Regions from separate parts of the Homo sapiens genome. Here region 2 is linked to region 1. Evidence: fine-mapped expression QTL. Tissue or cell type: whole blood. Region 1 holds a variant in brackets; the other region holds the start of a gene. All regions are shown on one strand. Distances are between the middles of the regions.

Region 1 (11,364 bases):
TCCAAAGAATAGAGTAGGGAAAAACCTGGAAAACACTATCTTAGCCAAATAGTGAACATTAATATCACCAGAGATAAATCATAGATATCATGTACTCTTGATATGTGACAAGAAGAGCATGTCACCTTTGTGATAGTGTTTCCAAAGACCCATAATCCTAGTCTAATCATAAGAAAAGCAACTGATGAGCTTAGACTGAATGACATTTTACAGGATACCTGACTAGTCAAGATCATGAAAACTAGGAAAGACTGAAAAACTAAGACCGAAGGAGTTCAGGGAGACAAGATAGCTAAATGCAATGTGGATCCTGTATTGGGACCTGGAATAGAAAGAGGACACTCATGGAAAAGGTGCTGAAATCTATGTAAAGTCTGGAGTTTACTTAATATACAAATGTCAAGTTTCTTAGTTTTGACAAATGTATCATGGAAATGTAACGTGTTAACAATTGGGGAAACTATGAATGAGAGGTATTTGGGACATCTCTGTACTATCATTGCAACTTTCATAAATCTAAAATTATTCCAAAATGAAGTTTATTTTTAAAAATGGACTGGAGTTAACTTTTAAATAATAAAAGCAAAATGTGCTTATTGTAGAAAATATAAATGATGAAAAATATAAGGTAGAAAATGAAAACTACCCATAATCCTACCACCCAGAGATAACTGATTATTTGGATATGTCTTTTTCTAGACTTAATTCTATGTGTATTTCACTCAGCAAATAATTATTAGACTCCTTTGTGGACCAGACATCTTGGTAGGTGCTAATGATAGAGCAGTGAAGAAGAATGATGTGTCCTTCTCTTATGGAGCTTATACTCTAGTGATAGAGGGTACTATTAAACAATCTCACAAAAAAAGTTACAACTGTGATACGATAAGGGCTGTAAAGAAGTATGAATGTCAGCCAGGCACAGTGGCTTATGCCTATAATCCCAGCACTTTGGGAAGCCAAGATAGATGGATCACTTAAAGCCAGGAGTTCGAGACCAGCCCAGGCAATGTGACTAAACCCTGTCTCTACTAAAAATACAAAAGTTAGCCAGGTGTGGTGGTGCACACCTGTAATCCCAGCTACTCGGGAGACTGAGGCACGAGAGTCGCTTGAATCCAGGAGGCAGAGGTTGCAGTAAGCTGAGATGGTGCCACTGTATTCCAGCCTGGGTGATAAAGGGAGAATATCTAAAAAAAAAAAAAAAAGTATGAATGTGAGAACATATAAGTGGGGAAATCAAAATTGAATATGTATTATTTAAGATGAGAACTGAAAAACGAATACAAGTCAGGCATGTGAAAGAAGGAAGCAGGGCATTGGAGGTGCTAGGAGCTTGTACAGGTGCAGTTGCAGGCAGAGGGAAGGAACTTGGAGCGTTAGAGGTAAAATGTCTGGAGTGCAGAGAATGATAACTAGAAAGCGAGGGACTGAGGCTGAAGACGTAGCTAAGCAAGGTCTAAATAATACATGTAAAGTTTTTGGTACTTTTCCCCAAGAGTGGTGGGAAACCACTGAAGATTTTTGAATCAAGGGAATCATACGAACTTTGTAATTTAAGAAGATCATTCAGAGGCCATGTGGGCAAATGGACTGTTAGGTGGTGAGAGTATGGAGGTAAATATAATAGTTCAGAAAAGAAATTATAGTGTCTAGGACTATAGGTAGTGATAGAGAGTAGAGAGATTCAAAATAGATTTAGGAGTAAAATCAGCCAGATATACTGATTGTTTTGATGTAGAATGAGGGAGTATAAGGATAAATGTTCTGTATTTCTAGCACATGCAGTTGGTAGTGCCATTTATAAGGCAGAGAGTTTTTAATATATAAAACACTGCCTTATGGTGCAAGAGCTTAATCATTTTTAATGGTTGCATAATAATCAGATACACAAATGTATTTTCAGTTCCCAGAAATAAAACATCTGTTAATGTGTAGTGAATATGATGTTTTGAAAATTAGTGGTGAAAGGCTGGGCGCGGTGGCTCATGCCTATAATCCCAGCACTTTGGGAGGCCGAAGCGGGCAGATTGCTTGAGCCCAAGAGCTTGAGACCAGTCTGGGCAACATGGCAAGGCCTTGTCTCTACAAAAAATATAAAAATTAGCTGGGGCATGGTGGTGCACGACTGTAGTCCCAGCTACTTGGGAGGCTGGGACGTGACCATTACTGGAGCCTGGGAAGTTAAGGCTGCAGTGAGCCATGATCATGCCACTGGACTCCATCCAGCCTGGGTGACAGAGCGAGACCCTATCTAAGAGAAAAAAAAAATGAGTGGTGGAATTGTTGCTAAAGATAGTCTGAGTGCTGATAAAACAGTTGAGTTGGTTCTTTCTGTGACTAAGAATAATGAAGCTCTTTGTTTGATATTAACTGCTGGTAGAAAACATTAATAAAACAATCCAAGAAAGGTGTTTTAGGAAACACAGTATTCTCGTATGTAGATTTATAAGCACAGAAAAATTTCCAACAGTATAAAGTTGTGGTATAGCTCCAAGAAAAGTATTCTTAGTTAGAAGAATTTGGCTTTGCTACAGAGTTTCAAAGGTTATGTGTGCGCATATTGTCTTCAGTAGATGACAAGTTGATTTTAGTTTTATTGTTTTATCTGGCATTTTCCAATAACATTGGTAGTATTCTAATGAGTAAGACATTTGACTCTAAAGTCAAATTTGACAACATATATTCTTAAGCCAGTTTAGAAAGTATAGAATGGTGGTTACATTGTAAATCTTTGGCAGAGTTTTTGTAAGAAATTCTTAAATGAAGTTAACATATCACTGCTACCATTTAATGTCTGTCTGTTGGGAAAAGGTCAGAGCTCTTTTAAATGCTCTACTCTGAATTATTTTTAGAAATAAACAAATAATTCTAAAGTTCATCTGATATTTATTCTAAGCAGGGTCATGTTCTTAATACATTTGACACTTCACATTCTGTTGCCAACTACTTTGTAAACATTTCTACACCTGTGTCTCCAGACTGCTTCAGCCAGAGCAACTTAGTTAACCTATTATACTTATATGAGGGAGTAGGAGACTGCCCAAATTTGTGCGTTTATATAAGAGTAAGGTAATGCATTTAGGGAAGACAAACTCATACTAGGTTTATGAAATGCTGTAATTCAGGATGTTACTAATGAACTAGGAAAGAAGTTGGTATTAATAATAAACTGGTGCCTTGATAAAATTAGCCTAAGATGCCAGTGGAAAGTCAATCAAGTACTGGATAGATATCATCAGAAAGGTCATTGGAAAGAAATCAGCTTAATTTTATAATATACAGAAACTGGTGGTTTATACCTCACTTACCACCTTAATTATTGTCATTGCATTGCAAAAAAAATTTTTCTTCTTAAAAAAATTTCAAAGAAAGTTAACTAAAATGATTACCTCTTCACTCTACCTTTCTCACCCTAATATCATGATGCGACAAATTAACTTTTCTTCTGTGCATGTAGAATATTACCTATGAACTGTCCTTGGGAGAATTGAGAAAATTTTCAAGCTTCATGTTTTGTGTTGTGGTTCTGGTTAAGAATTTCAGTTGAAAAGGGCTGGAGGAGTTATGTGCTAAACCTGTAAAATCATAAGCTGAAGCAAATATAGTCATTTCTTGGTATTTGTGAGAGTTTGGCTCCAGGAGCCCCTCAGGTACCAAAATGCATGGATTTTCAAGTCCCCTATATAAAATGACATAGTATTTGCATATCACCTACACACATCCTCTTATATGCTTTAAATTGTCTGTAGATTACTTATGATACCTGATAAAATGTAAATGTGTAAATAGTTGTGCTACTGTATTGCTCAGGGAATCATGACAAGAAGAAGAAGCCTGTTCATGTTCAGTACAGAACAACCATCCATTTTTTTCCTAAATATTTTCAAGCCATAGTTGGTTGAATCCACATATGTGGAAACCACAGATGTAGAATCCCTGGATACAGAAGATTGATTATACATAAAATAATAAGTCTATGGACCTATTTTACACAGTTCTGAAATACAGAGGAAATTCCTTGGAAAAACCAGCACCTTAGAACACATTGAAGTCAGTTTAGATGCTTATGAAATTTGTTACCTACAACTGATTGAGACTGTAAATAAGATTAAACTAGAAGGGTTTAGGTAGGGAAAAAAAGAAGAAATCCACATTAGATATTAATAGAATTAGAGATACTTAGGATATGTTTTTAACTTAAAGACTTTTGAATTGTGACATAACACATCAGAAAATGCATAAAACGTAATTGTGTAGTTTAATTAGTTATTACAAAGCAAGCATCTTTGTAGCCCACTGAGGTTAAGACAATAAAGCATAACCATATTCCAGAAGCCTCCTGTGTACGTTCCTAATCACAACCCTTCCTTTCCCTCTGAAGGTAAATACTATTTTCTCTTTGTCTAATCACTTTCTTGCTTTACTTTGTGGTTTGCTCATCTAGGTATGCATCCTTAAGAATATAATTCATTCAAGCCAGAAATGGTGTGTTGAAAAAAGAAGTATATAATTTAGGATTGCCTGTTTTTGAAAGTTAAGTAAATGGAATCATATAGTGTATATGTCTTTGTTTCTTGGTTTCACACAATGTGGCTTTCAAGAATCAGGCATGTTGTTGCAGGTAGTAGCTGTGTGGTTGCTCTAAACTATTATATATCATTTTTTAAAAAATGAATTTACTACAGTTTACCTATTCATTTTACTTTTGATGGATCTTGAAGCTCCTAACAGGTTTTGGTGGTTACTAACAATGCTACTTTGAATATTATGCATGTACTTGTGTGGTACTTAGGTCCTTAGGTGCACAAATTTTATTTGTCCTGGATGTGAACTTGTTGGGTCATAGGTCATGTTTTCCCCAGTAGTGTTTCAGTATACATTCAGACCAAGAATGTATGAGAGCTTCCATTGCTTCATGTTCACTAACCACTTGATATTGTCACACTTTTAATTTTGTCAGTGTGCTAGCTATGTATGGATTTTGATTGTGGTTTAAATTTGCATTTTCTTTGTAGTCAAAGAGATGTAGCATCTTTTCATGTCTATTTGGAAATCCTTTTCAGAGTACCAGTTTGGGTCATTTACTCATTTTTCTATTGGAGTGTCTATCTTACAGATTTGTAGAAGTTCTTTATTTTCTAGACACAAACTTTTTGTTGGATAAATGTGTTACAGCTATCTTCTATGGAGTGCATTTCACTCTTCTAATGGACAAATTATGAACAAATATTCTTAGTTGTAATGTGGTCCTATGTGTTAATCTTTTGCTTTATGGCCAAGGCTTTTTGTGTCTTAATTTTAAAAAACGTCCCTACCCTGATGTTATGAAGACATTTTTCTATATTATTTTGTAAGAGCTTTGCCGTTTACATTTAGTTGTGTAGTCATCTGATTTGTATATGTGTGTGTGTGTGTATGTGTTAGAGTGTATTCATTTTTTTCTCATATAGATAGTGTGTTAGTCTGTTTTGCATTGCTGTAAAGGAATACTTGAGGCCGGACAATTTATAAAGAAAAGAGGTTGGCTGGGTGCGGTGGCTCAAGCCTGTAATCCCTGCACTTTGGGAGGCCCATGTGGGTGGATCACCTGAGGTCAAGAATTAGAAACCAGCCTGGCCAATATGATAAAACCCTGTCTCTACTAAAAATACAAAAAATTAGTCAGGCGTGGTGGTGGGCGCCTGTAATCCCACCTACTCAGGAGGCTGAGGCAGGAGAATCACTTGAACCCGGAGGGTGGAGGTTGCAGTGAGCCTAGATCATGCCACCGCATTCCAGGCTGGGTGACAGAGTGAGACTCCGTCT[C/CA]AAAAAAAAAAAAAAAAAAAAAGGAAAGAAAAGAGGTCGTGCAGGCTGTATAGGAAGCATAGTGCTGGCATTTGCTTCTGTCTGGTGAGGGCCTCAGGAAGCTTCCAATCATGATAGAAGCTGAAGTGGAAGCAGGCGTGTCACATGGTGAGAGAGGCAGCATGAGAGAGATGCCAGGCTCCTTTAAACAACCAGCTTTGTTGTGAACTAACAGAGCAAGAACTCACTCATTATCATGGTGAGGGCACCAAGCCATTCATGAAGGGTCCACCTCCATGAAACAAACACCCACTAAGCCCACTTCTAACACTGGAAATCGCATTTCAACATGAGATTTGGAGGGGACAAAACAACCAAACCATATCAGATAGCCAGTTGTCCCAACATCAATTACTAGAAAACAATTTTTTACCCACTCTTGTACAGTGCCACCTCTGATACATATATGAAGGGCTCATTATATATAGGAGGGCCTATTTCTAGACTCCCCATTTTGTACTATTGGTTTTTCATCCTGATAATGGTTGTGTGTCTTTTTCTTCTCTTTTTCCCAATTCTTCTCCGTCTCCTTTCCTTTCTCCTATTCCCTCCTCTCCTTCCCTCCTCCTTTCCCTTCTTCCTCTCTCTTGTTCTCCTTTCTCTCCCCTTGCCCTCCCCCATCTTAATCTGTGTCACTGTAGATTTATCAATAGTTAGTTTTTCCAATGAATTGGTTTGCCTTTTTTGTTCTTTTCTATTATGTATTTCTTTTCTGTTTCATTAATTTCTGATCTTCTACTTTCTTTGAGTTTATTTTGATGAGTTTTTTTTCTAATTTCTTGAACTGGATGGTTAGCTCCTCAGTTAACTTGCCTTTAAGTGCATTTAAAGCTATAAATTTTTTTTCAGATACTGTTTTATTTCTATGCCATATGCCTTTTTTATTATCACTATTTAAAAATCATTTTTAACGTTTATAATGAGTCTACTTTGGGCTATAGGTTATTTAGAAGTTCAGTTTATAATTTCCAACACATGAGGAATTTCTGGCTGTTTTTAATTATTTATAACATTATTGCATCGCGGTCCGGGAATATGCATTATGTAATTACAGTGTGTTGAAATTTTTTGCAACTTGCATTGTGGCCCAGAAAAAAAGTCAACTTTTGTAAATGTTCCATGTATGCTATAAGAATACATAATGTGAAGTTTTCAGTTATGGTGTTCTCTCCATGTCCATTAGGTAAAGTTTGTTAATCTATGAAAATACTCTGTTTCTTTACTGATTATTCTCCTTGTTTGTTTCTATTAAGTATTTTAAAAATTTTCACTGTATTTGCACATTTATCTACTGCTTCTTGTCATTCTGTCAATTTTTGCTTTATATACTTTGATCTTATGTTATTAGGTTATATCTTCCTGGTGAATTGAACCACTTTTATTTTTTAAATAACTCTATTTCTAATTATAGTTTTTTATCTTACAATCTACTTTGATATTAATATAACTCCCAATATTCTTTGGATTAGAGTTTGCATATTATACTGTTTTTATCCTCTTTACTTTCAGTCTTTCTGCATCTGTTTGTTTTGTTGAAACTCTTGAACTGTATAGTTGAACTTTCAAATCCAATTAGGTAGCATTTATTTTCTAATTGGAACATTTAGTTTGGTTCCACTTAAGGTAAATAGTGGCATATTTGGATTTAAATATTTCTAAAATTTAGAACTCTTAAAATCTTTTTTTGCTTAGTCTTTATATTAGCTTATGTTCATGCCTGAATATTTGAGAAACTCCTTCAAAAGGAATTGTTTAGGCATTAAAACAGGTTTGCCGGTTTTGGTTCTGATTTTGAAAAATTGATCATCGTGTGATGTTTTTTGTTTTTGTTTCTAAGATGGGGTCTTGCTCTATTGCCCAGGCCAAAGTGCAGTAGTGCAATCATGACTCATTGCAGCCTTGACCTCCAGGGCCCAAGTGATCCTCCTACTTCAGCCTCCTGCGTAGCTAGGACCGCAGGCATGTGCCACTATGTCCAGCTCATTTTTATAAATTTTTTGTAGAGACGGGAATCTGGGAATCTCCCTATGTTACCCAGTCTGGTCTTGAACTCCTGGCTTCAAGTGATCCTCCTGCCTCAGCCTCCAGAGTGCAGGGATTATAGGCATGAGCCGCCATGCCTGGGCCAATTGTGTGATGTCTGTGAAAGCAAACTCTTCATATTTTTATTCCTGTGATATGTTATTTGGGTAACCGGATAGCTATATTGGAAACTAAAACTTCTTATGTTTATGAGGTATGAATATTATAAAACCATTTTGTTTTTTCCATTTATTTTCTGGCTTGTCAGTTTTAAGAATTTCCACCTCTTCTTTCTTTAGGGCTTCAATAACTTTACAACTAATTGTGTAGTTTATTGATTGTCCCCCAGAAAAGCTTTGCTGTATCTTTTTTTTTTTTCTCTGATGCATTTTGATTCGGAGAATGACTGACAATGCAAGTTAAGGTTTAGTGCCATATAGTGTGTCCAAATGTAAACTTAAAGCAGCCTGTATTAGTCCCTTCTCATGATGCTATAAAGAAATACGTGAGACTGGGTAATTTATAAAGAAAAGAGATGTAATTGGCTCACAGTTCTGCACGCTGTACGCGAAGCATAGCGTCTTCTGGGGAGGCCTCAGGAAACTTACATTCATGGCGGAAGATGAAGGAGAAGCTAGCATGTCTTACATGGCCAGAGCAAAAGCAAGGAGGGCAGTGAGGGAGGTGCTACACACTTTTAAAGAACCAGATCTCATGAGTACTCTATAATGAGATAGCACCAAGTGGATGGTGCTAAACCTTTCATGTAGGCTCCACACCATGATCCAGTTACCTCCCTCCAGGCCCCGCCTCCAACATTGGGGATTACAATGCAACATGAGATTTGGGTGAGGATACAGATCCAAACCATATTACAACCATACTGATGGATTGTAAACTACAGTTTTTAACCTGCTTCTATTAATTAGAGGGGTAAAGGTTGTAATTTTTTATTAATGTTTATCTCATGTAAGTGGTTTTATTTATAAGCATTCTTTTAAAAATCTTTTTGGCTTGGTGCAGTGGACAGTGTTGGGTGGGCCTGGACAACGTTGTAAGACCTATCTCTACAAAAAAAGAAATTAAAAAATTAGCCAGGCATGGTGGCACACACGTGTGTATTCCCTGCTATTGGGGAGGCTGAGGTGAGAGGATCACTTGAGCTAGGGGGTCGAAGCTTCAGTGAGCTATGATCATGCCACTGTACTACAGCCTGGACGTTGGAGTGAGACCCTGTCTCTAAAATAATAAATACAAATAAAAAATCTTTTCATTATGGAAGAAATTTTAAAACATGGAAACATATGGAGAAGAATATTGTGTACCTTTTCATCCTGGTCACTTACTTTAATTAATTATCAATTCATAGCCAATTTTGTTTCATTTCTACTCCCTCAATTATGTTGTAATCTGAAACATTGTGTCATTTATATAGGTAGGTAGATATACATGTATATTGTGTATTTCTAAAAGATTAAGATTCTTTTAAAGGTCATTATTTTAAAATATGAATAATTCCTTAAAATCAAATATCTTGTGTTTCCCATTTCCCCAATTGTTTCTTAAAAAATTGTATTGCTGTATCTTTTAAGTCTTTTTAAAAAAAATTCTGTAGGTTTCCCTCTCTCCCTTTTTCCTTACTAAATTGTATTTGTTGAAGAAAACAGGTCATTTGTTTCCTAGTTTGGTTTTTTCCTGATTACATTTTTGAGCTATAATTTAACATGTTTCTCTGCTCCTGTATTTTCTATAAGTTGGTAGATTTAAAGGCAAAAAATTGTTTAAAATTTATTTTTATTGTTTTAAAATTTAAGTACTTCTAATATTGTAGATTTCTCAGATCATTACTGTTACAAGGGGCGGCTTAAAGGTAGAACTCTTAAAATATTATTATCATCTATTCTGCCTTCCTGGTTTGTAGATACAGAGACATCCCAGAGAGGTTGTGATTTATCCAGATTTCCACATCAAGTTGAGATTACAGTGGAGGGTGCGTTCGAAAGTAAAAATAACTTCTCCTTTTGAATTTTGATGGCTTCATGTGTGCTACTTGTGATTTTGGTTCTTTAGAATTCATCCTGAGCATTTTTCCAGAGCTATGCCTAGGAATTCTTGAATTTGTCTTCTGCTCTCTCTCTATCTGGGCTCCACCCTGACTGTAATTCAGTTTGTTAATATGGTAATAAAAAGTCTCTATCAAAGTCCTCTTATGTGTCAAAGTCCTCTTTTGCCACATCTTCCAGTCTACCTTGTGCTTTTCTAAATTGTGATTGGACTTAACCTGTGTACTGATTCTTTTACTTTAAGAAAGTGGCAGTTGTGGACCCCATAAACACAAGAGATGTGTTTACTTCTGAAGTTTTAAAGATTTTTAGGTTTATTATTACAAAAGTAATATATTTGTTTAAACAGTGTGGAATTATATAAACACTGAATGTACTCCTCAACCTCTCTACCTTATGTCTCAGTGATAACAATTGCTAAGGGCTTGATGTGTTTTATTCTAAACTTAATTCTATACAAATATAATTATATAGATATATATTATATATACACACAATTGTTTATCTTTAAAAATAATTCAAATATGGCTACAAAACTTTTACAATATGAAGCATTGTCAGTATTTATTTTACCGGGAGGATTTCCCCCATCAGTGAGTGCTGACTGTCATTTTCATTCTTTATGATCAAGTTGTAGATCAGGAAAAACAAGTTAAGAGAGTGCCTACAAATACCGGGAAAACTTGTGGATAGATTTTCATTTTTTATGTAAAGACATATAAGAACATGAATGGTATAAAAACAAAATCCTTTATAAATGCCATACAATTATATATTTAGAAAAATTATATGGTGGTAAAACATATAAAAGAACCACACACTCCCAAATTTACATTGAGCTAATTTAGTACAGTTAGCCTTTGTCAAAGCTTTCCTTGTTTAAAAAAACTATTGGCTCAGTGTGCAGGAAGGAGCATAGGAGAAAAAATTGCCAAGAATATTTGAAAAATACAGAAAATAAAGAAAAAAATCACCTACTATCCTATCAAAAATTTTAATAGCTAGAATCAGGATAAGATAGAATATTCCTGTGGCAGTAATTCTAGTCTATATTCCTTTCCTGGAACCCTGTCTCCCAAATTTCAGGTGAGATTTTATAAGAAGCTCTGTTTATCTGAGATTTAAAATATAAAAACTTGATTTAACCTATACAGTTTTTTAAAAAGACCCTAAATAAGTAAAATTTAGTACTCCACAAATTGAAGAGAATTTCTCTCTTCTCTTTACTGCCCTCTGAGTTTTCTCTTTCCTTCTCTCACCTCCAATTTTCATGTAAACACTTTCAGTTCGAGTGGACCTTAGAGATTGTCTCATTCAATACTTTAGGAAAACAAATTTTATAGAACCCTTGAGTTCTGTGGAATTGCTTCTAATGAACAACACCTTTTGTTGTTGTTGTTGTTTAGTGACACTGTGTAACAGGCATTTCAGG
Region 2 (11,364 bases), 32 kb before region 1:
TTAACTCTGCATAGCTACGAGTTAAACTGTAGCAGCCTACTGAATTTCTGGATCTTAATCTGGTAGGCCCAGCTCCATATGCAAAGATAAAACATCTAGTCAGCTTTTGAGTTTCTGGCTTTCTGAATTGGGTCACCTGCCAGGGCTCACAGATGAGTCCACCACCTGAAAAGAATGATCATAATCTGTATCTAGGATGAATAAAACAAAACACTGTGCCCTTAGTTGTGTGCAGCCTGAGAAATGAGTCACTTCATGAGACTGTTTTCAGGATATGATTGGCTGAAAGAGCTTTGAGTGTATCAAGTCCTACTGAGGCAGTTTTGTGGGAAACAATCACACTAAACTGGAAGACTGTTTGCCATGTCAAAGGTCTCGAATTGTAATTAGAAGTGCAAAGCTATTTCGGATAACTTCTTGTTATTTTTGGGGAAAAGACAAAAGACAAGAAAAGGTCATTTTCACTTCTATGATGTTAGTGGAATCAGGAGGAAATTCTAGACTAGAACCATGCTACTATTTTCATAATAGAATGTTTTAATCCCTTCTATTCTCTCTCTTTCCAATGTGTCTGAAACATAAACAATAAGATCAAAGTTCTTTTTCTTTTCTTTTTATTTTTGAGACAGAGTTTCACTCTTGTCACTTAGGTTGGAGTGCAGTGGCGTGCTCTCGGCTCACTGCAACCTCCACTTCCCAGGTTCAAGCGATTCTCCTGCCTCAGCCTCCTGAGTAGCTGGAAGTACAAGCATGCACCACCACACTGGGCTAATTTTTTTTTTTTTTTTTTTTTTTTTGGAGACAGAGTCTCACTCTGTCACCAGGCTGGAGTACAGTAGAGTGATCTTGGCTCACTGCAACCTCCACCTCCCGGGTTCAAGCAATTCTCCTGCCTCAGCCTCCCGAGTAGCTGGGATTACAGGCACGTACCACCGTGCCCAGCTAATTTTTGTATTTTTAGTAGAGACGGGGTTTCGCCATGTTCGGCAGGCTGGTCTTGAACTCCTGATCTCAGGTGATCTACCCATCTCAGGCTCCCAAAGTGCTGGGATTACAGGCATGAGCCACCGCTCCTGGCAAGATCAAAGTTCTTTTTCTGAAACAACTCATAAATACATGAAGTAGAGCTATACAATCTTGTTTGGTTTTTCTGTGCAACTTTTTTTAAGTGTATTCTTTTAAGTTGTTATGGTAAGTAATCCTATTTCTAGGTTTTTTTATTTCAAGGGAAGTTCAGAGTAACTTTACTGGTCCAGGGAGCAAGATAGAAGAAACTGAGATATGATTCCCAGTGCTCTTTACTTTGCCACTTCTATAAAATAGCATCATCCAACTTGCCACTCCCAGAGAGAGAATTGCTGACAGAGGGCAAGGTTTATACCACCTCCACTCACTGGTAATGTCTATCATTTGTTTCTCTTGTTTCAATCTGCCAGGGTTCCAGATATACTAGTGAACAGGCTATCCTACACCTGGTTGTAATTGGTAAACTCTTACACTGTGAGTCAATCTTTTTGTCCTTTTTCCCTTTCCTTGAGGCCCCAAGAGTTTTGTTGGTTGGTTGGTGGCAGAAGTGTGAAGCTAATTTAAATATTGGTTGAGTATTCGTTATTAACTTAAACTCCAACCAGTCCTAGCCCAAAAATCTGATTTACAGTGGAAGAAACTGACCCTTTTCACATAACTTATTTTGCTGTGTCTCCAAATACTTCCTGTATACTGGGGGCCTTTTAAAAAATGCATACTGAGACTTGTGGTTAAAAGATGAATTTAAGCACCCTATGGTAGGCAAGATAACACCCCCTGCCCCACCGCCCCAATCCCTGGAACCAGTGAATATATCAGATTACATGGCAAGGGGGACTTATATATGATATGAGAAACATTCAGCCTTCCATTGCTGGCTTTGAAGATGGAGGAAGTGGACAATGAGCCAAGGAAGTCAAGTGACCTCTAGAAGCTGCAAAAGGCATGGAAGTGGATTCTCCCCTAGAGCCTGTAAAAGAAAACAGCCCTGCCAACACCTTGATTTTTTTTTTTTTTTTTTTTTTTTGAGACAGAGTTTTGCTCTTGTTGCCCAGGCTGGAGTGCAATGGTGCAATCTTGGCTCACCACAACCTCCACCTCCCGGGTTCAAGTGATTCTCCCGCCTCAGTCTCCCAAGTGGCTGGGATTACAGGCATGTGCCAACAAACTTGGCTAATCTTGTATTTTTAGTAGAGATGGGGTTTCTCCATGTTGGTGAGGCTGGTCTTGAACTCCCAACCTCAGGTGATCCGTCCATCTTGGCCTCCCAAAGTGCTGGGATTACAGGCGTGAGCCACCACATGTGGCACCAAGAGGTTGCCCAGCCAACATCTTGATTTTTAACCAGTGAGCCCTATGTCAGACTTTTACCCTACAGAACTCTAAGATCAAAAATTTGTACTGTTTCAAGCCACTAAATTTGTGGGAATTTGTTACAACAGCACTTGGATACTAATACAAACTCTTCTTAGGGTTCTGGGAGCAGTTATTTACGGTACAGAGATCAGGTGGGCTGTTAAATTATTTTCATATGGGAGAAAAGCCCACAGTTGGATCTGTAAACCTCCTTACTGGGAATTATCTCAGCCCTAAGAAGTTCCTTCTTAATCACTCCCACTAAAATAAGGGATGTGGTAAGAATGCCAATCAATCAGCATCCTTTCTGTAGTATTTACCACGATGGAATGAGATCAGGCTGAAAGTATTCACATTAGGGCACTTAAAATGTACCAAAGATCTGGCTATGGTGCTTACCCTGTGTTTCCTCCCACCAGTCTGTTGAACAGGAAGTTCAACATCACCAGATTCTCTGACAAAAACACCAGAGGAATTACAGAGAACGTTTTTTCCCAGATGCGATCTATTGTTTTATCACCAAGCAATCACATACCACATTGTTTAAATATATTGCCCCATATGTAACACAGTGTTTCTGACTGAGCACCTTGGATCAACTGGGAAGAGTTAAACACAGGAATGCTTAGGTCCAACATTGAAACAATTAAGACAGGATTTCTGGGAGTGGGACCTAAGCAAGGATATTTTTCTGAAGCTCCCTAGATGGCTCTGATGCAAAGTGAAGATTGAGAACTACTGGTGCGATGATTATGTATGCCAGAGACCATGACTTTAAGTTCTTATAAAGGAATAAGGTAGTACATAATAGGGATAATATTACAAAAAACCAAACGTACAAATAGACTTGTTCTTGCACACTTAAGAGAGATCCTTGGAACAATCCTCCATTAAGAAACTACGACACTACCATGAAATAATTTTTCATCCTTATAGAAAGCAGGTAAGATTGACTAATAGACCACAACTACTGTCTACATTCTCAAAATCCATGTGCCTTTCCAAAATTAGCTACGTAACTACAGTGAGAGAGAAAAAAAAATGTGAGTAAATGTCTTGTGAAAAATTCCACTTGGTTTGGAAAAATTTTTGCCTGCTTTTCCACATTTTCTAAGAAGAATCTAAAGATCTTGGCCAACAGTGTCCCAGGTAAGAGAAAATCGTGCTTGGGTATTTCCATAGTTCTACAAACTCTACCTGGATAAAAGTAATGAAAGAGGTCCTAAGAAGCTTGACCGCACTGTGATCACCACCATGGGCACTATACCAGCTCTGAAGCCCAGAACTGTCTTTGAGAATATTCAATGCTGCCCTAGAAGAAATAGGAGAACAAAACTCACGTGTTCCTAGCCTGCAAAACAGTCGGTGGAGCACGTATATGTAAAAATAGAAAAGGCTGGCAAGACCAGGTCATATTTAATATTCATGAGGCACAAGATATACAACACGCACTTAATATTCATTAATCAGTATATATTCATAATATACTAAATATACAGGAGATATTAAACGTTCACGGGTCTTAATTCTGCCACCCAGTGGAGACACTCAAAAGTGATCTCGCCAAAGAAATGCAAAACCTGTACCTGCCCACCAGGCTATTAGCATGCTACTGCTGTGGCCACCATTCTTTCACTGCATCGCCCTGCCCTGCATCGGAATATAGCACCTTGAACACGGGATCAGGTTTACTGAATTCTGTGACCCACGCTGGGAGCTCAATAAATGTTTGCTAAACGGAAATGAACCCAATTCAGACCGTGTAGAAACCCCAGATTATATCTTTTCTCCAAACATTCAATTTCCAAGCAGTATTTTTGAAAATGCGTGATGGCTAAATTCGAGTTATCCTTTTTGTATGTATGTTAGGCACACAACCGGCGATGACATACAAGGCGAGGTGACACCACTGCACTCCCAGCCCGCACGTCACCTATAAGCACAGGGGGCTTTTGGTGCTGGTTTATTTTTGAAGGCTGGTACTTCTCTTCGATCTAAGTTTTAGGAACCTGTGCTCGTCGACGGCTGCCAATACTTTTTATTTTCAAGGCTGACGCTCGCCAGAGTTTCACAAGCTGCTCCCGGACGCTGTGGTCTCTCGCTAGAGTGGATCCGAACTCTGCGTGACGCTGGGAACGGCCAGCGTCTGTTGCCTCACGAAAACATCTCCCACAAGGTGGCCGCCTCGCGCGAGGTCAGCAGCAGGGCAAACAGGGATGCGTGAGTGACTGACGTGAGCTAATCGCTAATGACAGGCTTCACAGCCCCGGCGGCCCTCAGAGCCAGGCACCTCGCACCCCTCCTCCTCCTCGAGACCCAGTCCCGGCCCGCCCACCGTTCCCACGCCGCCCAATAGGCGCCGACGCTACTCAGCGAGTGGCCGGAGGAGGAGGTGTTGGGACGGCCGGACGCTGAACGGCCGTTCACGTCAACGTAGTGACGTCACGCGTCGACGCTGGGGCGTACCTTTCGGGCTCCTGACTCCTGCCGCTTCTCTTCCCCTTCCGTGGGTCAGGGCCGGTCCGGTCCGGAACCTGCAGCCCCTTTCCCAGTGTTCTAGTTCGCCCGTGACCCGGAATAATGAGCAAGGAGGGTGTGGTGGGTTGAAAGCCATCCTACTTTACTCCCGAGTTAGAGCATGGATTCAGTTTTAGTCTTAAGGGGGAAGTGAGATTGGAGATTTTTATTTTTAATTTTGGGCAGAAGCAGGTTGACTCTAGGGATCTCCAGAGCGAGAGGATTTAACTTCATGTTGCTCCCGTGTTTGAAGGAGGACAATAAAAGTCCCACCGGGCAAAATTTTCGTAACCTCTGCGGTAGAAAACGTCAGGTATCTTTTAAATCGCGATAGTTTTCGCTGTGTCAGGCTTTCTTCGGTGGAGCTCCGAGGGTAGCTAGGTTCTAGGTTTGAAACAGATGCAGAATCCAAAGGCAGCGCAAAAAACAGCCACCGATTTTGCTATGTCTCTGAGCTGCGAGGTGAGTTGCATTGTATGAGCGAAGAGTTGTCAGCTCTCCTGTTCACAGATTTTGGGTCAACTGTGAGGCCACAGCGCTCATCTTGGTTTCTCTTACAATGTACCTACATAATGTTGAAAGGTACATCGTGAATTGGGATGCTAACCCATCCTGATTAGGTATATACCCTCAGACATTCTTTAAAATTTCACACATCTGCTTCAGGAACCGTCGAAGGACCTCTGAATAAAATGGAAGTGGGTTCCAGGAGAAGATTAACTTTAAACTTAGAGGAGTGGGTTTTACTTTCGCTAAATTTTCCCCAATTTAAAAATAATATTCAGTTTTTCTATCTTTAGATATATATGTATGTAAAATATTTTTTGTGTATATATATTTGTGGTTTGATCTTAAACTTGACCAGAAACTGCCTTAGAATCTCAGAAATTGACTTTGCATGTGGTATGCTTTGTTTGTATGGCATTTTAAAACTGCGGAGCATATAGAAGATAATTACATATGCATTGTGCATATTAGAAACTGAGATTTCTGTTTCCTTTAGAAAGAAATTCCTGTTCATGGAATTGAATCAACAGCGACCATACCTTTTACACAGATATATAATTCAAAAGTTCAGTTCTACAAACGTAAACTTTTGGAGCTATGCAGTTCAGTTACTGCAGCATCATTGTGGCTTGTATAATTGTTGAATCTTTCCAGAAATGCTTTTACTTTCATCTTTAAAGAGTTAATTTAGAAGATTTTTTTTTATGAGGTCGGTATGGAAATAACTGCGTCCCTTTGTGAGTCACTACAAAATAATATTTGTTCAGTTCAGGAGTACATATGGGAGTTAAAGTGCTTGTGTATAAATTGTTGACTTTCATCTTAAAAGGTGCTGCTGCTATTCAGTGTCTTGTTCTATAATATGGCTTTAAAAACCATGTGTGTGACCTACAGATATTTTCTCAACTTGAATATGCGTATATGGCCTCTGGTTAATACAGACAGCCACTGTTGGCAGAATTCATCACAGATTGCATACCCTTCCCACCCCTTACTCCCCTCAGCACCTCGAAAACTTTGCTGCTTTACTTGAATGATGAGTCACATTATTTTAAGAAGTCAATATGAATGTATAGTACCTACATTTTTACTTGGAAATTGTACTTCAGTATGTGTTATCAGTCATACATAGCTCATTAAGAATGTAAATATTTAAACTACTTTTGGATAGATGTGGTTCAGGGGAACAGATTTGTTGATGTTGTGGGTTTGTGTTAGTAAATTGGCTATTTTCCAGGTCATGTTAGTGGTAGGCTTTCCATTTCCTGTTGTGACATGTTGGTCATAATTTTCAGACGGCTCAGGAAGCCAGATTTGATCTCTGTGGTGGGTCTTATATCAAAGCAGTATCCTGTGGGGTTTGGCCACTATCGCTGTTTTGTAGAACTTCCAACTTAGTTTGGTAGTCAAACTTGTCAGCAGTGATCTAAAATGTATAATATTTTATAATAAGTGTTAATATTTGTTGAATGCATTCTGTGTTTTCAGGCTCTTTTCCAAGTAATTTTTGTGAATTATCTCAATTTTCACACTAACCCCACGAAGTAGGTACTTTCACTAATCCCGTTTTACATTCGTAGAAACTGAGGCACAGAAAATTTAACTAACTTGCCCTACAGTAACTGTCAGAACTGAGACTGAAGCCTGGGAGTATGATTTCAGAGTTCCTGCTCTCTGCTGCACCATAGTGTAGTTTAGAATAGTCAAAATGCTAGAGAAAAACAAGGAGGGACGTGGCTTGTAGGTTCAATTATAAAAGCAATGTAAAATTACAGAGAGTCTGGGAAACAGTGTTTTTAAAAGGAATACTCATAATCTTACTACTCTAATAAACATTTTAATTTTTTAAATATGCACATTCACATCTGTACATAAACATTGTAGCTGTGATTCATTTTGGTTCTTAAAGATAAATCTTCAGTGAAGTTTAATATGGAGATTGAACCCCACTGCCTCACTTTCATTGTTGAAATCCAGAGAGATTTGATCTGCAACTTTGACTGGAACCAAGTTAAATAAATATATTTCTTGCTATTTCTTGTGAGAAATAATCGAACAGTTTCTGTCTTTTAAAATCATGAAGACTATTTAGTTTTCAAAGTTTCTGTCTTCCACAGCAACTTTTTATTGGTTTATTGTTTTATCTTTCTTCCTTGTTATAATCTGAGTGTTATATTTGTATGTGTGTTTATTCCGTTGTCCTCTTGAAAGCCTCTAGCATTTATACCCGCTGCCCCTGAGGAATTTGGGTTTTTTTGTCTGTTTTTATTTATTTTTAATTGACAGATAATCATTGTGTATATTTATGGGGTTCAATGTGATGTTTTGATAAATGTATATTTTGTAGAAAGGTTAAATCAAGCAAATTAACACGTCCATCATATCACCTACTTGCCATTTGTTTGTGGTGAGAACGTTTAAAATTAACTTTTAGCAATTTTGAGGTATATAGTACATTATTATTAATTATAGTCACCGTGGCATGCAATAGATCTCTAAAACTTACTCCTCTAACTGAAACTTGGTATTCTTTGACTAACCTCTCTCCTTTCCTTTTTCCCCCTTCTCCCTAGCCTTTGTAGACCACCATTCTGCTCTCTGCCTCCCTGAGTTTGACTTTTTTTTTTAGATTTTACACATATGTGAGATCATGCAGTATTTGTTTTTTTGTGTCTTATTTATTTCACTTAGCATTATGTCCTCCGGGTTAATCTACGTTTTTGAAAATGACATAATTTTCTTCCTTTTAAAGGCTGTATGGTATTCCATTCTGTATATATATTACATTTTCTTTATCCATTCATCATAGATCCTTTTAGATATCTCTAATATCGACCTTAAATGCAGAAGATGAATCACTGTATTGGAAGAAAGAAAAGTAATCCTATAAAATCAGTTTAAAATTAGGTCAGTATAGCAAGGATTAGATATGTTGATTTTACTTTGGGTACTCTGAGAACTTGATTTAAACTGAACCTTGCCCAGTGCTAATGTAATCAGTAGACCACACTAATTCCTATGGTATAGTAGTGACTTTTTTTTTGAGATAGACTCTTGTTCTGTTACCCCAGCTGGAGTGTAGTGGTGCAATCTCTGCTCACTGCAACCTCTGCCTCCTGGGTTCAAGCGATTCTCATGCCTCAGCCTCTGGAGTAGCTGGGATTACAGGCACGCGCCACCACTCCTGGCTAATTTTTGTCTTTTTAGCAGAGACAAGGTTTTACCATGTTGGCCAGGCTGGTCTTGAACTCCTGACCTGAGGTGATCGACCCGCCTCGGCCACCCAAAGTGCTGGGATTACAGGCATGAGCCACCGTGCCGAGCCAATTTTTGTATTTTTAGTAGGGACAGGGTTTCACCCTGTTGGCCAGACTGGTCTCAAACTCCTGACCTCATGTGATCTGCCCACCTCGGCATCCCAAAGTGTTGGGATTACAGGCATGAGCCACTGCACTGGGCTGGAATACATACTAATTTTTAGAAAGCTATTACAGCATCCCTCTTGAGGAAAATGTATAATGTAATTTATGCTGAAGTCTACTGAAAGCTGTAGGGCCTATACAAATATAATGGCATTAATACAATAAAAACTGTGTTCATATTTATTATAATTTCTGGTACATTGTTAGCTATTCTATAAATGTTAGTAAATGAATAAGTTATGTTGAAATTCCTTTTCACATTTTTTTTTCTTTTGTTTGAGGCTCAGTCTTGCTCTTGTTGCCCAGGCTGGAGTGCAGTGGCGCGATCTCAGCTATCCTCAGTCTCTGCCTCCTGGGTTCAAGCTATTCTTCTGCCTCAGCCTCCTGAGTAGCTGGGATTACAGGTGCCCGCCACCATGCCCGGCTAATTTTTGTGCTTTTATTAGAGACGGGGTTTCCCCATGTTGGCCAGGCTGGTCTTGAACTCCTGACCCAGGTGATCTGCCCACTTCGGCCTCCCAAAGTGCTGGAATTACAGGTGTGAGCCACTGCACCTGGCCTCTTTTCACGTTTCAATCTGTGACTAGTACTTAGCACAGTTTTTACAATATTTATATGAAAATGCTCCTTACATACAAATGGCTAGCTCAGATTTTCACCTCTCTGCCATCGTTGCTCTTGAGACTTTTGTTCCATCTCTCTAGTTGCTGACATTGACAATCTTTTTCTTCTTTCACCCAGTTTATATCCACTTTTCTTTTTAGCTTAACAGAGAGTTGACTGACACACCTTTGGGAATTAGATGTGGTCCTCAGCTGTACCCAGTCAGTCTCCTTTATGGGAGAGACAAAACTTTGTTGGGAACCATGAAAAATTAGTGTGCATATCTCAGGCTGTGGATCCTTTCGCCACCCATTTCCATGGTTTTCCTATTTTTGCTCCCCTCCCCAAATTCTGGTGGCATATTGCTTAGTGTTTGCAGTTTTGGGGCTCAGGTCAGTGTAATGGAGGTAACCTTCTTTATAGTCTGACCTGGAATAGAAACTAAAGCCTCGACATATAATCCTAAAGTTGGAAAGAACACGCTGGTCTTGAGTTCTGTGAGTTGCAGGAGACTGAAATTTGTTTCTGCCAACTGTTTTCAGTTAATCAAGTTGGAACCTTAGTGGATATCTTAGATTCTTCTTTACCATTCCCTATATCTTATTAATTACCAGGTCCTCTTAAATATTTCTTCAAACTCTCTCTGCTTCTCAATATTGATGTGTCTTAGTGAGCAGGGTAAAATCACAGCCAAAGTATTTTTTAATTCTCTCACTCAACACAACAATAATTAACACAGAAGACTTCTGTGACCAGATGCTTGGGGGTTTCTCCCCCCACAGCAACCAACCAGTTAGTTCTGCAGCAGATACCAACTGGGTGCCCCCCGGTTCCAATACGGTGTACCTGGAGGTAGTGTCAGACACCACTGGTTGAGGGCAGTTCCCAAAAGACTTCCCCCACTTCCAGTGCTAATCGCAAGCCCCAGGTTATTTTGATTTTGCCTGTGCTTCTGATAACACTGGCTATAAATCAGGGATCCCATGACCCCCCCACTCCTTACGTCCTTGGGTTCAATTAATGTGCTAGAGCAGCTCACAGAACTCAGAGAAACACTTACCGGTTTATTATAAAGGATGTTCAAAGGATACAGATGAACAGATGCATAGGGGGAGATAGGGGAAAGAGCATGGAGCTTCCATGCCTTCCCATGGTGCGCCACCTTCCAGGAGCCTCCAATGTTCAGCTATCCAGAAGCTCTCTGAATCCACTCCTTTTGGGTTTTTATGGAGGCTTCATTACATAGGCACAGTCAACAACTGTGTAGAAATGTGATTGGACAAAAAGAGTATGACCTAACAGCACTAATAGACCCAGTGGGGAAACCCAGCAAGGCCTGCCTGTCCAACTTCTTCTGCCTGTCTGCAGCATTCCTTCTTCCAGGGTCTGGGGCAAGCTCCCTTCTAAAGGGAAGGTCTTATGACCCACAGTCAGACAGGCTGTGGAAGATTAGAGTTCTGCCTTGGGTTGGTGGAAAGGAGGGCAGGAAAAGGTCAGCAAGAGAAGAGATTCTGTTTTCTGAGGTTTAATGTGCCCCAACATTATACAAAAGACTGTAGTAAGGCCAGGCACAGTGGCTTACCTCTGTAATCCCATCACTTTGGAAGGCCGATGTGGGCGGATCACTTGAGGCCAGGAGTTCGAGACCAGCCTGGCCAACATAGTGAAATCCTGTCTCTACTTATATAAAATTAAATTTAATATTAAAAAAGAATGTAATAAGAGCTGTGGGACTTATAAACCAGGAACCATGGATGAAAACCAATATATATCATATCACTCTTAATTCAGTTATGCCCTATCTTACGTTTAGAATTGTTCAGACGTCTAGTCTCATCTCCAGCTTCTCTATCTGTAGTCCTTCAGTCTCTTACCCTTCTTATCTGGCTTTCACACTGCTGCTAGTGTTGGCTTACTAAAATTCATGTCTGAT

The links. PIP is the estimated chance that this variant, and not a neighbour inherited with it, causes the effect.
Region 2: it holds the start of CLCN3, and the variant in region 1 is fine-mapped to the expression of CLCN3 in whole blood (INTERVAL, PIP 0.91).

The regions. Positions count from the first base shown.
Region 1 is chr4:169,647,832-169,659,195 of GRCh38, forward strand. The region is part of intron 2 of CLCN3 (chloride voltage-gated channel 3); the gene reads left to right. Among named protein-coding and RNA genes, the nearest start is that of CLCN3, 33 kb to the left of the region's middle. The variant C/CA (reference allele first, on the strand shown) is at 5,809.
Region 2 is chr4:169,615,703-169,627,066 of GRCh38, forward strand. It overlaps CLCN3 (chloride voltage-gated channel 3), which reads left to right and starts at 4,876. Exons shown (of 13, transcript NM_001829.4): 1 at 4,876-5,361. RefSeq lists enhancers at 4,054-4,123, 4,684-4,733, 4,804-5,033, 5,224-5,333.